3 separate regions of the Homo sapiens genome follow, and regions 2 and 3 are each linked to region 1. The links come from fine-mapping of genetic effects on gene expression. A gene starts in region 1. Each other region holds a variant in brackets. All regions are shown on one strand. Distances are from middle to middle.

Evidence for each region. PIP is the estimated chance that this variant, and not a neighbour inherited with it, causes the effect. A credible set is the group of variants that fine-mapping cannot tell apart.
Region 2: its variant is the best candidate, but not a certain one, in a credible set for the expression of TNN in lung (TOPMed, PIP 0.62).
Region 3: its variant is the best candidate, but not a certain one, in a credible set for the expression of TNN in spleen (GTEx, PIP 0.73).

The regions. Positions count from the first base shown.
Region 1 is chr1:175,064,865-175,070,093 of GRCh38, reverse strand. TNN (tenascin N) reads right to left here and starts at 2,261. Exons shown (of 19, transcript NM_022093.2): 1 at 2,159-2,261. RefSeq lists an enhancer at 1,741-2,940.
Region 2 is chr1:175,089,911-175,095,139 of GRCh38, reverse strand. It overlaps TNN (tenascin N), which reads right to left. Exons shown (of 19, transcript NM_022093.2): 7 at 887-1,150. Among named protein-coding and RNA genes, the nearest start is that of TNN, 25 kb to the right of the region's middle. The variant G/A (reference allele first, on the strand shown) is at 2,871.
Region 3 is chr1:175,117,842-175,123,070 of GRCh38, reverse strand. It overlaps TNN (tenascin N), which reads right to left. Exons shown (of 19, transcript NM_022093.2): 11 at 4,247-4,510. Among named protein-coding and RNA genes, the nearest start is that of TNN, 53 kb to the right of the region's middle. The variant T/C (reference allele first, on the strand shown) is at 3,159.

The sequences.
Region 1 (5,229 bases):
ATAAAATAGACACGGGACCTAAATTCAGGAACCTTCCTCTCCCTTATTCAACCAAACAGCCAGTCCCCAGAATGACTAAATATTACTTTGTATACAATTAGCCCTAATATCCATGGGTGTGAGGGGCGTCAGATTAAAACAAAACAAAACAAAAAACTCTGCAATTTCTTTCTTTAGCTAACGTGTTGTTTTCCACATATTGAAGTAACTTTAAAGTTCCAGTCTTCTAGCAAGGAGGAGAGCGTTTGCTAATTTCCAAGCATTTGCACTGTTCCACTCACACTCGCTGGGTACAGATTCAAATGGTGGCTGGGCAGCATTAGCAGTGAGTCCACTGTGGCAGAAGCAGCAAAGTCCCTGTCCATCCAGAGATCAGGCCTGAGATCTTAGCAACTTCTGCTCACAGACTGGTGGCTCCAGATGTGGCTACAGGACCTAAACCATGATCTCATGTCTGTATCCAGATCCTATAGGAGCCAAGGCTCTGGAATGAGCAGTGAATGGACAAAAGTTTCCACTGGGCCTGGGCACAATTTCCTCAGGCATCTTCTCAGAAAGAGAGCTCTGCCCACCCTACATTTCAAACCACAGAGCAGCACTGGACTGGAAAACCAGAAGCCACGGGATGATTTGAAATCATTTGTTCTATTTTCCCTCCTTCGGGAGTCAGCTGCAGCCTATAAACTGGGGACAAAGCAGTACTTAGAGTTGTATGAAAGAATGCCAGGTGCCTTCTTCCCTTCTCTCCTGGAAAAATGATACCAGTATTGATACTCTATTTTTTCCTGTGTCTGACACTGTCACCTTGATTCTGAGTCTGCAACAAATGTCTGAATGTCAAGAGGCCAGCTGCCAATACGTAGCCCTGACCGAGCAAGGTATCATCTGATGCCTTGGTGACACCTCAGCTTTTCCAAGAACCAGTGGATTTTAGGCACTGTGGCTAACCTGTGTCCCAATGTGGGCAGTTTGTTACTTTTATGTTGGAACTTGTTCTTTTTTTTAATGCTTATATAAGCAACACAGGTTTCATGCTTTTAAGTGAAGCCCTGCCTGTTCTCATTCATTCTTTCTCCATCCTTCCCCCAGATCTCTCCCAAGCACAAAAATTAATAAATAAGTAAAAAGTAAGACCTCCAAAAACTAGTTTTTTTTGTTTGTTTGCTTTGTTTTGTTTTTGTTTTTTAGATGGAGTTTTGCTCTTGTTGCCCAGGCTGGAGTGCAATGGTTCAATCTCGGCTCACCGCAACCTCCACCTCCCAGGTTCAAGCAATTCTCCTGCCTCAGCCTCCCAAGTAGCTGGGATTATAGGCATGCGCCACCACGCCCGGCTAATTTTTTGTATTTTTAGTAGAGACGGAGTTTCTCCATGTTGGTCAGGCTGGTCTCGAACTCTCGACCTCAGGTGATCCACCTGCCTCAGCCTCTCAAAGTGCTGGGATTACAGGCATGAGCCACCATGCCCGGCCAACCACATCATTTTTTTAGATGTCTTGAAATGTTTTCTTTGAGGTATTGTGAGGGTAATAGTATGGGGATTTCGAGAGAAGTTGTCGTCTTAACAAATAATAATTAAAACCTGTAAAATTAAATGTCTGGAGATACTTCAAAGCTGTTCAAATGTGTTTGCAAACATCCCCTTAACTGATTCACACAAAATCCAGACAAAGGGAAAGTTATCATAGCTTCCTAATCATAACTAAAATAACAATTCTGTTTTAGGATTTAAAAGAATAATGAAATACAACAATACTAAATTATCCAAAAAAAGACAGAGAGAGAGAAAGCTTTGACATTGTAAGTAAGTTAAAAAGAAAAAAAAATGAGAAGGAACATCTTAAAGGAAACATTTTATACAAAAATGTGTTACGCCAGGTAGAAGCTGATACAACACAGACGCATCTGTGTTGCAGGAAAGAGGATAACTATGCTTAGCCCTGTCTGAGACTGGAGTATAATACTAAGGATGCAGTACACGGGTCCTGAGAGGTACTTCCCAATTCATTTTAACTCTTCATGGAGGTGATAGGAGACTAATTACACTGCCCGGATTTTCAGGCTCGGGAACGGAGGCACCTGAGCCACCACTTTTGAGCTCATCTGCATTGGCCACCTCCCTCCCTCCAGTAAGTAAAGCTTGGGCAACTGGCACTCTTACCTGGGAGGCTGCTGGGTGCCTCTTCCAATGCTGCTGCTCCTGTGAGCCGGTCTCCTCCTGCCGCAGACCTTGGTACTTGCTGGTCGTCCCTGGTTCTCGTCTCTCCTTGGCTTCCCTTCCTGGGTTTAAATCCTGTCTAGGCCAGAGGAGGAGCAAATGGAGACTCCTGGTGTTTTCCTCCCTTCCTAGCAGGGACTCTGCTAAAAGATAATGAGCAATTCCTTCTCTTATTCTAACTAGGAAAGAAAAATATATACATTTCCTTCTTCTTTTTCACTTTGATTACACAGCAGCTAAAAATACTGGAGGCTGTTTCCATTTAAGTGAATCCAGAATAAGGATATTAAAAGAGTTTGCCTGTCTCCTGGCCAGGAGCTGGGTCTCGGGGTTCAAAAGTGCATTTATAAAGTTTCTTTCTCTTTTTCCTGTTTCAGGCATTCTGGGACTTCCTGCCTACTGCTTTTAAAATGGGAAAAAGCCTTTAGCACAGAAAGAAATGAGCAGAGACCCTCAGGGACAGAAGCTCTTCTGACTTCCCTCCTCCTTCATCCATCGTCTCACACTTGTGAGTGGCAGGACTCTGAAGTGGGGGCAGGAATAACAGACTGGGGACATTCGGTCCCACAAGCCCACTCTGACCCTCACCCCATCCCAAATGCCTCCCACACGCCAACAGTACAAGAGCTCCAAAATCAGGAAAGAATAGTCGTGCCCCTTTCTGGCTGCCCTTCCTCTTTTGCCCTCAGATGGACAGGCCTTCATCCTTCCTATGAACCAGAGTCATTTCAATAGGGCATGGGCTGACACCTGCCACCCTTCCTTACACCCCATCCCTCTCCTGCTCTGTGGGAAGTAGATTCTGGAGTGCAGATCCACAACAAAATGAAGGAGACCATATGTTTCCAGTTCACCTATGTCAGCATCAAATGCTGCTGGAGGGAAAGGAGAAGGAGAGACGGGGGACCAAAAAGTGGCCCCCAGAAATTGGAGGGGGGTTCCCAGAGGCAGCTTGCCTGGATCTGAAGCTTGTGTCTGCTACTTGCAAATGACCTTTGACAACTTCTTTGTGGCTCAGCTTACTCGTCTGTAAAATAGGAATAGTGTCTTATGGTTATTGTGAGGTTCAAATGAGTAGATGGGGTAAAGAACTTAGACTAGTCCCAAGACACAATGAGGACTTGGTAAAGATTACCTGCTACCATGATTATTATAACTTTTTAATTCTCCTTATGTATCCCACTAAATCATATTTGATCCTCTCCACCTCAGTCCAGGTAGGTTCATAGTTCTCTGCCCTTCACTTACAACCACAAATAATCCTGCTATCTGGCCCTGGAATCTGGGCCAGCCATATACAGAGGTGACCAGTGCAGTAGGAACCAGGGTCACCAGAAAATTTCCCAACTCCCAAACATCTCTTTTCTCCCTTGGACTATTTTCTCTGCTTCTTAAAAGGGAAAATCTCTCCCAGAGGATCCTAAGACTCTATTGCGCCCTCAAGTTGCTCTCCTATTCTTAATTTCCTTTCACTAACTCTCCCCAAATGAGTGGTCTTCACCAACTCTCTCCGTGACCCCATTTTCCATGCCCTCAATAGGAATAACTAAACCAGTGCACCAGGCTCCTAAGAAGCCACCTTCCTCCAATCTCTCCTTATTACAGCTGGTATTAGTTAGTTGCAGGACATGGAGCTGTAGCAAAGAGACCCTCCAATGCAGTGACTTAACAACATAGATGATTTCTCCCCAAACAGTAGAAGACAGTGGCCCAGGGCTGGTAGGGCAGTGCCACCATCCACAGCACACACCCACCACTCTCTAGGGTCATCATCTCCCAGCCAACAGGAAGGGTAAAGGGATGAGGGCAGATGGAAGTGCGTGCTCATTCCTTACAAACACAAAAACAAAAACTTTTTATTTTATAATTATTTCAGACTTGCAGAAAAATTGCAAAAATATTAAAAGAATCCCTGTATACCCTTCACTCATATTCTCCAAGTGTTAACATTTTGTCATATTTGCCAATCATTCATTCTCTCTTAATAGTTTTCCCTGAAAACATTTGAGAGCAAATTAAAGACATGATTTATCTCTTTACCCATTTATGTCTAAAAACTTTAGTATAGGGTGTTTCCCAACAACAAGGGCATACTCTCTCATAACCTCAATACAATGATCAAAATCAGAAATTGACATTGACATAATACTATTGTCTAATTTACAGACGATATTCAAATTCCATTGATTGTTTCTCTAATGTCTTTTATAGCAAAAGAAAAATAATTTACAGACCCAGGATTCAATTCAGGATAATTAATTGCATTTAGTTGTCCTGTCTTTAAAATTTCCTTAAGTTGGAATAGTTCTTCAATCTTTATCTTTCATGACCTTAACATTTTTGAAGAGAAAACGTCAGTTATTTTAAAGAATGTCCTCAGTTTGCATTTGTGTGGTATTTTTTCATGCCTAGATTTAGGCCATACGTTTTTGGCAGGCAGCGGCAGAAGCGGCGTGTCTTTGGTCCATCACATCAGGAGACACTTGATGGCAGTCTGTCCCAGTGTTGGTGATGTTACCTTGGACCACTTGGTTAGGGTGATATCTGCCAGGTTTCTCCACAGTAAATATTTGCCCTTTTTTATTTAACAGGTATATTGTGGGATGATGTTTTTAAACCATGTAAATATTCTGCTTCTTTTTATATTTTCACTCACTAGTTTTAACACCCATTGTTGATTCTTGCCTGGAACAATTACTACTATGCTGGCTGCCAAATGGCGATTTTCCTAATTTCATCTTTCTTTTTATGTTTACTAGATAGAATTCTATTATAAAAAGTAATTTTTCTTCCCCCACCTTTATTTTATTAATCACCTTATATTCAAAGTGACTCATATTCTTTTTTTCATTCTATGGGTTATATTCCTGTACTATCATTATTTTGTTGCTCAAATTGCCCCAGATTTGGCCAGGGTGAACCCTTCAGGCTGGTTACTGTGTGCTTTTAACACACTTCCATCATTCTTTGAGTGTTTCCTTACTTTTGGCACAGCAAGATATTCCAGACTGATC
Region 2 (5,229 bases), 25 kb before region 1:
CAAATACTGATTAACATTCTAAAAAATCATTGCTCTCACTTGTGCCATAAGAAACAGGAACGGAAGTAAAGTAACTTGCTCAAAGCCACTCAGCTAGTCAATGGCAGAGCTGGGGTTAAAACCTGGACAGTCAATTTTCTGAAACCATATTCCTAACCATCTCTCTGCTTCTCTGAGAGTCTCTATACTCAGTAACTGTCCAGAATAGAATGCAAACAATAAGCGAAGCCTTTCCCTCTGATTTCCTGCCAGGTGTTTTGGAACCTCATGCGGGCACCAGGATCAGGCTGCTCTAAATTCAGAGAAGCACCAGGAGAGGATTTAAGCAGAAAGAATGGCTGGGCTATGTCCCAGTATAGTCCCAGGACCCCTGCAGGCGCAAACTGAGCAGAATGACTGGGTGAAGTATGAGAACCCTCATGGCTTCTGAAAGCTTAAAGGAAGAATTGGTCCATTTAGTAAATGTTGACTTAGGATGCAAACTATTTCCACGGTCTAAAAGAGAGCTCCAGATTATATGCAAAGTGCCTGCACAGCCACTGCAAACTGAGATAAGCATTCAAATTCACTGTCAGCCCAATGTTTTGAGTTTTCACATCTAAAAAATGAAAATTAGGAAGTGTTACTCTATTCTGAGGGGGTTGCATACGGAATTCCAACTCAAATAAGTATGACCTTCTGCATCAAGTGAAAAAGCTGATCTCTTTTGTTTGATGTTAAAAAGGAAAAATATATATAATTATGAAAATCAAAATTGGTTTTGCAACCTCCTCCCCACTCCTGCAAACAAAAGAGCTGATGCCAGGTGAGCAATGACCTCCTGATTCAAAAATCAACCTTCTCCCTGCCATGAGGAAACCTATTTATGCTCCCGTCCTTCTGTTACCTGTGAGGGCATTGGTGTCAGCTTTCTTGCTCCCCTGGTTGCCCCTTTCAGCCCACACGTAGACCTTGTATGCCTCTCCTGGCTTCAGGCCCGTCAGGACAGTGCTGCTCTCATCCTTGTGCACTGCCATTTCCTTGGTGTCCCCATCAGCAGAAGTGTAGCGCACTACATACTTGTCTATGACAGCCTGCACTGGGTCCCAGGAGACAGTTGCTGTGTCTTCAGTCACTCGATCAGTGACAACATTGGTTGGACTGTCAATTTCTTCATAAAAACACATGAGAAAGAAAAATCAGAGAAACCAGTTGGTTAGTCAAGATCATAGATTGTTAAAGATCTAGTTCACCTGGGTGACCTAGTTCAATAGTTTATGCAATACAAGGGGGTCTCTCCATCATCAGTGACAAGTGGACAACTGGCTTCTGCTTGAACCCTAAACTAAGAAAGGACTCTCCAATAGACAACACAATCCATTCCATTTTCCATTTGCAGACTACTGAACATATTAGAGAAAACTCCTTCAAATGTAACTCCTTCTAATTGTCTACCCTAGGTAGACAGAGAGAATACATCTAATTCCCCTTCCAGAAGACCAACCAGCAAGTATTCAAGAAGAGTCATCATTCCCCTCCCTAGTTCTCCTCAAATCAAAACAACATCACCTCCCCTGTTCATTGCTTCCAAATCACAGTTTCCAGGCCTGGCACTTTTATCTACACATGCTCTTCTCTCTCTTTTCAAATACAAATCTCCAAAACTCACTTCATTCATTCAACAGCACTTCACTGAACATCCATTATGTGTCAGGGAATGTAATGACATTTAAGAGTTATCAATGAGCAAAACAGTCAAAAATCCCCACCAATGTGGAGCTTATATTCAAAAAGAACTAACCCAGAACAATATGCCAGCTGTGTCCTAGAGACTGTGCTTCCCAAGAACATATCCTGAGCCCATGACCTTAGAAAATCTCTCATTTTTTCTTTGACACATGTCCCTGCTAACCCAAGGTCCTGCTTCATGTGTTCAAGCAACAGCAAGGAGGCCAGTGCATCTAGACAGAGTTAAGTCAAGCGGCTGGAGGGGAGGCCAGGGAAGTGAGAGGGACAGTGGACTATGGATGGCCTTGAAGGCCATTGTAATGACATTGTCTTTTACACTAAGTAACAAGAGAAGTCTCTGGGGGCTTTGAAAAGAGGAATGACCTGATCTGACTTGGGCTATCAAAGGATCCCTCTGGCTTCTGAGGAGAATACTCACTCTAGTGAACCAAGAGTGAAGGTCACACAGGAGGCTGCTTCAGTGGTGTATATGCAAGATGGTGGGGGTGCAGGCCACTGCAGCAGTAATGAGGGTCATGGGGAAGGCTGGCTTTGGAGCTTTCAAAGGTAAGGCTGTCATAATCTGCTGATGGATTCAACATGGGATACAATGAATGATTTGTTGGCTTGGGGCCCAAGTAATTTGCAAAATGGAGTGGCCATTTATAGAGACAGGGATATCTGAGGGAGGGAAGCATTTGCAGTAGGGAGTGGGGAGAGGAAGAGGACCAAGCGTTTGCTTTTGGATACATTAAGTGGTAGAGCCAAGATTTGAACTCATTCTTATCTAACAAAGACTATACATTTCCACTTTATATGTCTATGTCCTAAGCAGCACTATCAATAGCATTTTCCTTTGCAACTAATAATAATAATAAATTATAAATAAAGTAAAGTGTGAACTGAAAGGTTACTGTGACATGAAATCCAGCAGCAGTAATAGACAGTAACTAGAGAGAGAAACTCGTTCTTGAACTATTGCCTTGTGAGACAATAGTCTCACTGTGACTGGCACTGTGAGCTCAGAGCCAATAGTCTGCCACTTGTGGGCCTCCAGGAATGACAGAGTGGACAATTAGGATGCAGGCACCCACTGTCTGACCCCATGGCCAGGGCCTCTGGAGGCTCCAGCAGGCTGTAAGAGGACAGTCAAGGAAAAGAGT[G/A]CAACGATAGAGAGAACTCTCTCCCCATCCTGTAACAACTTTCTGTGCAAGACATGATCCTGCATGTCATAGGGAAGAGATGACAAGAGCCATCCAAAACCAATATCTCAATCTGGGGAAATTAGTGACAAAGTGGAAATGGAAAACTAAGGAGGCAGGAAGAAGCGAGCAAGAACACCCTAGCAGTCCTGCTCGTGAAGTTCATGGCCCTCACCTTCTCAAAAGCATCCACATCTGTACAACCCCAGGTCCCAGCAGTGCCTCCCACCCCATCTCCCTGCCCCAGATTGGTGCTTGCTACCATTGCTTCCAGGACCCACAGCAGAGGCCTGTGGCTTTGTGGGGTTGGTGCTGCCTGTGTGTATTGAAAAATATATCATAGCCAGGCACAACAGCTCATACCTGTAATTCCAGCACTTTGGGAGGTGAAGCTGGGTGGATCACTTGAGGCCAGGAGTTCGAGACTAGCCTGGCCAACATGGCAAAACCGTGTCTCTACTAAAAACACAAAAAATTAGCCGGGCAGGGTGGTACATGCCTGTAATCCCAGCTACTCGGGAGGCTGAGGCACGAGAATGGCTTGAACCTGGAAGGCAGAGGTTGCAGTAAGCTGAGATCATGCACCACACTCCAGCCTAGGTGACATAGCAAGACTCAGTCTCAAAATAAATAAATAAATAAATAAATAAATAAATAAATAAATAAATAAAAATAATAAATAAAAGTAAATAAATAAAGGAAAGATCCATCATGTCCACATGGGTGGAAAGAGGAAGCAGCAGCCAGCTCTGTAGCTCCTTTCTCTCCCACCAGTCCCAGAGCACTCAAGGGATGGAGAAGAGCCAGGAAACAGCATCTTGGGTATGAAGAGTAGGAAGGTAAAACTGAATCATATTATGCCCAGGGTTATAGGAGACCTGGAGGTTTAAAGAAGTTTAAGAGAGGAGATGTGACTTCTCCAAGCTCACAGTGCCAGTCACAGCTCTTGGCCCCCTGCCTTCCCTTTTCTCTCAGTTCTCTAACCACAGCAACTCAACTCAGAAGGGGCTCTTCACAGAGCTTGCTCTCCTTGACCATTCCCCCGATGGGGATCAGGTGCTGAGACACAGGAATGGGAGGAAGGCCTCAGAGATGGGACCTCCATGATAGGCCACATTGCTGGAAGAGGCCAGCTTTGCAGGACTGAAACCTCTTTCTACCAAAAAGGGATCTGGAGATTATGAAATAGTTTTTCCATGCAAGGAAGCCTTTCAGCAGCTGCAGCAGCTGGCTAAATCACAGATTAGCCACAGCTGTAGCCTCTACTACAAGACAGGCTCTCCCCACCCTGGCCCCAACATCCTCCCCAGGCTGGAACTTCCCAACTGCTGGACACTAGCAGCCCTGGTGGGACCTTTCTTAGGGACATTCAAGGTCAATGAGATGTAAAGTAAGGTTTGTAAAACTGGATAGGTGGGACTCGCCTGTGAGTACATACGTTAGTTAGAATAAAGGTGCACTTCACTTCAAAGAGATCTAATTTGCAAAACCTGAACACAGTATATGGAGGAGGTTAATTAGAAGCTCTGTTCACATCAGGAAAGCTTATTCCACTTTATAACAAGATTTGCCACAGAGTTGGGTAGGGAACATCTGTCTTCACACTAGGCTGTAACATCCGAAAGCTCCTGTCCACACTTGAGCACATAGTCACAGGCATTAGGAACAGGTTTCTCCACTCACAATTTCCACCTGTGAATCTCCCAGTTGGTGCAGTAGAAGATGGCACTGACGGGATGAAAAATCTATGAGAAATGATCTTGGGGGAGGAAGACACGGGGGGCAGGACCTGTGTCATTGATTTGAAGGTGGGTTCCTGGAAGAGGTGCCTTGAGACCACAATACCTACACGTTCTGTACTCTTGTTTTCACAGACCTCCTCTAATGTCTTTCAATTGTGGCAACAAAATTATCCAAAAGGCATCGTTTGTAGAAAATGCACTCAGAGAGGTCAGCCCTTCTTCCTGTTGTCCTCCAGCTTTGCTTCTAAAAAGGTTATTGACTTTGATTTCAAGCGAACCTAAGTTGTACCAGCTAGCTGTTCACTAGCTCACCCTGAGTCTCCTAAACTTTGTAGGCCTCAGTGTTCTCATATGTAAAATGGAAATAATAATGCTTACAATCCTATTGATATTATAAGGACCAGAGATAATATTTACAAAGTCTCACAATATACAGAAGCCCACTAGAATACAGTGATCGCGCAAATGATAGAGATTGTTGCTGTTGTCCAGATGCTAAATGTGTGTGTTGGTGGCTGTGTATGAGACAGGAGTTCTCAATGGTGACAGGAGCTCAGCCTAGGACATGAAGGAGTTTC
Region 3 (5,229 bases), 53 kb before region 1:
TAGTTATTTTGTTTCACAGAATTTGAGAGCCAAGAAGTCATATCCTCCAACCTTTCCGACTTATAAAAGGGGAGGAGAATGGAGGCCCAGGGAAATGGAAGGTCTAGGCCAAGTTCCTGTTGACATCTTATGTTAAAGCCAAGACTCTTCGCTCTGAATTTTAGGCCTTCCCACCCTCTCAAGGACTTTGCTGCAGATCTGCCCTTTCTCTCCTGTGTCATCAATCTCTTCTTCTCTGTCATCAGTCCCAGACAAGCAAGGTCTAGAATCCCCCATCCTCTCCCGTATCATTCCATTTCTCTGCAACCTTAAACTGACAGATTGTCTCAAGAGAAATGTCTACATACCTTAACTTCACTGCTCACTCTCCAATCAATCCTGTTTGCATCTTTCTATGCCACACAACTAAATCTGCTAGTCTAAGTCACCAACAACATCCGTGTTGCCACATCTAATGCATACTTGCCATTCTCAACTTTACACTGCTTCTGGGTGGCATTTGGCAGAGCTGATCCACTCCTTCCTTCTTGAAACACTCTCAACCCTTGGCTTCCATGACTACATACTCCCTTGATTTTCCTAACTCACTGGCTCTTCTTCAGTCCTTTGTTAGCAACCTTCAAACACTGGAGCACCCAAAGCTCCCTTTCTCTGTTATTTGTTGTGTTTTGTTTTGTTTTGTTGATACAGAGTCTCGGTCTTTCACCCAAGCTGGAGAGCAGTGGTGCCATCATAGGTCACTGCAGCCTTGACCTCCCAGGCTCAAGCAATCCTCCCACCTCAGCCTCCAGAGTAGCTGGGAATACAGGTGCATGCCACCACACTCAGCCAATTTTTGTATTTTTTTTTTTTGTAAAGACAGGATTTCACCAGGCTGGTCTTGAACTCCTGAGCTCAAGCAATTCACCTACCTCAGCCTCCAAAAGTTCTGGGATTACAGGTGAGAGTCACTGCACCTGTCCCAAAGCTCCCTCTTTTCCTCTCTGTACTTTTCCACCTAGGTGATCTCACTCATGCCCATGGCTTTAAATACCAACTGGATGCTAATCGCTCCACAATATCTATTAATTCTGAGCCCCTGACTAGTTTATACAACTGCATCTCCACCACGGTGCCTGGCCTGTATTAGACACTCAATAAATATTTATGTAATCAATAAATGAATCACTCAATTAACCAAGGAATCTCACAAGTATCTTGAACTTAAATATTTAAAAGTCTTGATGCTTCTCCCCAAACTTTTTATTTCTCAGTCTCCCCTCTCAAGAAATGGTAGTCCAATCTCCCATGTTGCTCAAATAAAAAACACAGGTCATACTTGAGTCCTCATTTTCTTCCTACCCCACATCTATCAACAGGTATTATCATCCATACCTCAAAAATATATTCCAGACATCCCCTCTTCTCTGTCCCTTTTGCCATCATGCTTACCTAGACAAGCAGCATTTTGCACCCAGACTTTTCTAGCAGCTTCCCTACGAACCTCCCAACTTCTATCCTTGTCATTTTCTCCATTTATTCTCCTCACTGTGGCCTGGAAAATGTTTTTTAAATGAACACTGCATCATATCACTCTTCTAGTATTAATAAGTATAGCCCATTTTGTCCTCTAAGTACCACATGGTCCTGGCTGATCTGCCCCTGCTCCTCCCGCCTCATCTCAGGCCACTTGCTCTTCCACCCTCTATGCTCCAGCAAAACTGGCCTCTTTTCATTCTCCAACCATCCCAGGTACTATTCCAGCTGGGGGACATCACACATACTCTTCCGTTTGCCAGAAATGGCTAGTTTTTGCCAAAATCCATTCTCCCCCTTCTTCTGTAAGCACACTTACTGTCCAACAGATCTCTCTGCAATGATGAAAGTATTCTATAATCGGCACAGTCCGATACCGTAGCCATTAGTCACATGTGGCTACTGACCATTTGAAATGTGGCTAATCCAAATGAGAAAATATTTTTATTTTATTTTTAATTAATTAAAATTTAGGCTGGGCATAGTGACCCATGCCTGTAATCCCAGCACTTTGGGAAGCCGAGGCAGGAGGATCACTTGAGCCCAGGAGTTCAACACAGTGAGACCCCATCTCTAAAAGAAATAAAAAATTACAGGTTTAGTGGCACGTGCCTATGGTCCCAGCTACTTGGGAAGCTAAGGTGGGAGGATGGCTTGAGCCCGGGAGGTCAAGCCTGCAGTGAACTGTGATCATACCACTGTACTCCAGCCTAGCTAACAGAATGAGACCCTGTCTCTGAAAATAAAATAAAAATAAAAATAATTTTAATAGCTACATGTAGCTAGCAGCTGCTGTGTTGGTCAGGACAGCATAACCAAAGTAAAGCTGGGCACAGGGCCATCCAGCTAAAGACCTCATTTCCTAGCCTTTTTTGCAGTGAGGTCTGTCTGGGACCTGGCAATGGAACATGAGAAGGGCTGATATGTGCAATGTCCCAGTGATGCCCTGACTTTCATCATGCCTCTTCCCACTGGCTACAATGCAGACAGGGTGGTGACCAGGTAAAGGAGGGCAAATTGCTAGGGATGACTAAGCAACAATCACAGAAGAAGCCTGGGTCTCCTGGACGAGGAGCTACCGTATCAGCCCTGGACATTCTACAGAGAGGAATACACTCCATTCCTGCTGATGCAACTGTTATTTGAGTGTTTCTGTCTATGTATATCCTATTACTACTCACCCTTCCCATCTGCAAGACATCCTTACCCTGTAATTCTCTATACCTACACCATGTTCATCTCCTTCACAGAATTTAGCATAATTTACGGTTTTAAATGTGTTTTCTTATTTATTGTCTATCTTCACTCTAGACTTCAAGAGAGTAGAGATATTTGTTTTGTTCACCACTGTGTTCCCCAGGCCTGGCACTTAGATGATGCTCATTAAAAGTCAGCTGCCTACTGCAAGGAAACAGGGCTCCAGCCACCCAGGTGAATACTTGCTCCTTTCTATCACACAGCGTCTATTCGGTCAAACCTATACAAAATAGCTTGCCACAAAACAGGTTTTTAATCAGTGGTTTTAAGAATTTTATATTGGTTTTACATTATTTCCTATAGCTGAGAGACACAATGATTAAAAACACAGGCTTTGGAAAGAGTTTTAAGACATTCATGGGCCCAGGCGCAGTGGCTCATGCCTG[T/C]AATCCCAGCACTTTGGGAGGCCATGGTAGGCGGATCACGAGGTCAGGAGATTGAGACCATCCTGGCTAACACGGTGAAACCCCGTCTCTACTAAAAATACAAAAACAAAATTAGCCGGGCATGGTGGCGGGCGCTTGTAATCCCAGCTACTTGGGAGGCTGAGGCAGGAGAATGGCATGAACCCGGGAGGCGGAGCTTGCAGTGAGCCGAGATAGCGCCACTGCACTCCAGCCTGGGCGACAGGGCAAGACTGTCTCAAAAAAAAAAAAAAAAGAAAAAAAAGGCATTCATGGGACTGCTCCCACTGGGTCCATTACTATAGTTTTGTCAGACATGCTTGAACCAGAGAAACTCCATCTTGAATAGGAACTGGGTCAAATAAGGGTGAAACCTACTGGGCTGCATTCCCAGATGGTTAAGGCATTCTAAGTCACAGGATAAGATAGGAGGTCAGCACAAGATACAGGTCATAAAGACCGTGCTGTTAAAACAGCCTGCAGTAAAGAAGCCGGCCAAGACCCACCAAAACGAAGATGGCAATGAGAGTGACCTCTGGTCATCCTCACTACTACACTCCCACCAGTGCCATGACAGTTTACAAATGCCAAGGCAATGTCAGGAAGTCACCCTATATGGTCTAAAAAGGGGAGGTATGAATAATCCACCTCTTGTTTAGCATATCTTCAAGAAATAACCATAAAAATGGACAACCACAAGCCCTCAGGGCTGCTCTGCCCATGGCTAGTAGCCATTCTTTTATTCCTTTACTTTCCTAATAAACTTGCTTTCACTTTACTCTATGGGCTCACCCTGAACTCTTTCTTGCACAAGATCCAAGAACCCTTTCTAAGGGTCTGGATCGGGACGCCTTTCCTATAACACGTTGTTCTTTCTTTGGGTGAATGAAAGTTTTTTGTTTCTTTGTTTGTTTTTTGTTTTTGTTTTGTTTTGTTTTTACAGCAAACTCTCCTAAAACAGTCTGCAGCCCTGAGGTTACAGATGCCAAAAGCAGCTGCATCATCACTCAGCTGCAATAGATCAACCTGCAGCTACTACCCGGGTTTGCTCTTCTCTTCACTTCTATTACCTGTCTGGGCCTTGGTGTCAGCCTTCTTGCTCTCCTGGTTCCCCTTCTGGGCCCACACGTGCACCGTGTACTCCATGCCCGGCCTCAGGCCCGTCAGGACAGTGCTGCTCTGCTCCTTCCCCACTGGAACCTCCCTGGTCTCTCCGTTGGCAGACGTGTAGTGCACCACATACCTGTCAATGGTGGCCTGCACCGGGTCCCAGGAGACAGTGGCTGTATTCTCTGTCACCCAGTCAGTGACCAGGTTTTGGGGGCTGTCAATGTCTGAAAAAAAAAATGCTGACCAATATGCACTATGAACAGGTGCCAGAGTGCAGAAACTGGTGGTCATTTTGCGTGGGGTGAAACCCTTTCATGTTGTGTGGGGTTTCCGCCTCATATGCTCTTGTTTCATTTTTAGCTGTTTCATGGACATCATCTTCTCCCCCAAGATATACCTGGCTCCTCAAGTAGAAAGCACAATAGATCAGAACCTGAGAATCCAGGCTGTTACCTCTACCAAGTCTTTAGCAAAACAAATCTTTTATTCATCTAGTAAGGGTATATCAAGCCCCAACTCTGTCCATGAAATGTTCTAGACAGTGTGCAGAATCCAGAATTGGAAAAGACATGGTCTCTGCTCACCAGGAACTAACAATTTTGTGTCTCACATCATGTCAGTAAAGACCTCCCATTTCATACTAGAAGATTCTAAAAGCCACTTCTAAATGTAAGCCCCTGGAGGAAGAGGGCAGCATCCTATTCTCCTGTGTTCCCAGTGCCTAGTAGTGGGCAGGGCACGTGGAAAATGCTCACTATATATTACTAAAGGAATCCGCAAAAAGTAAAACCCTGGTTGAATATTCTCTAGCATATCATAGATTCACTCATCATGCTGGTTTGCTGATTAAATCACTGTACAAAATATGGTTAGATATCGCTTCCACTAAAATAAGAATATAACGTAGGAGCTATCCTTATCCTCAAAACTCTGGCCAACGTAC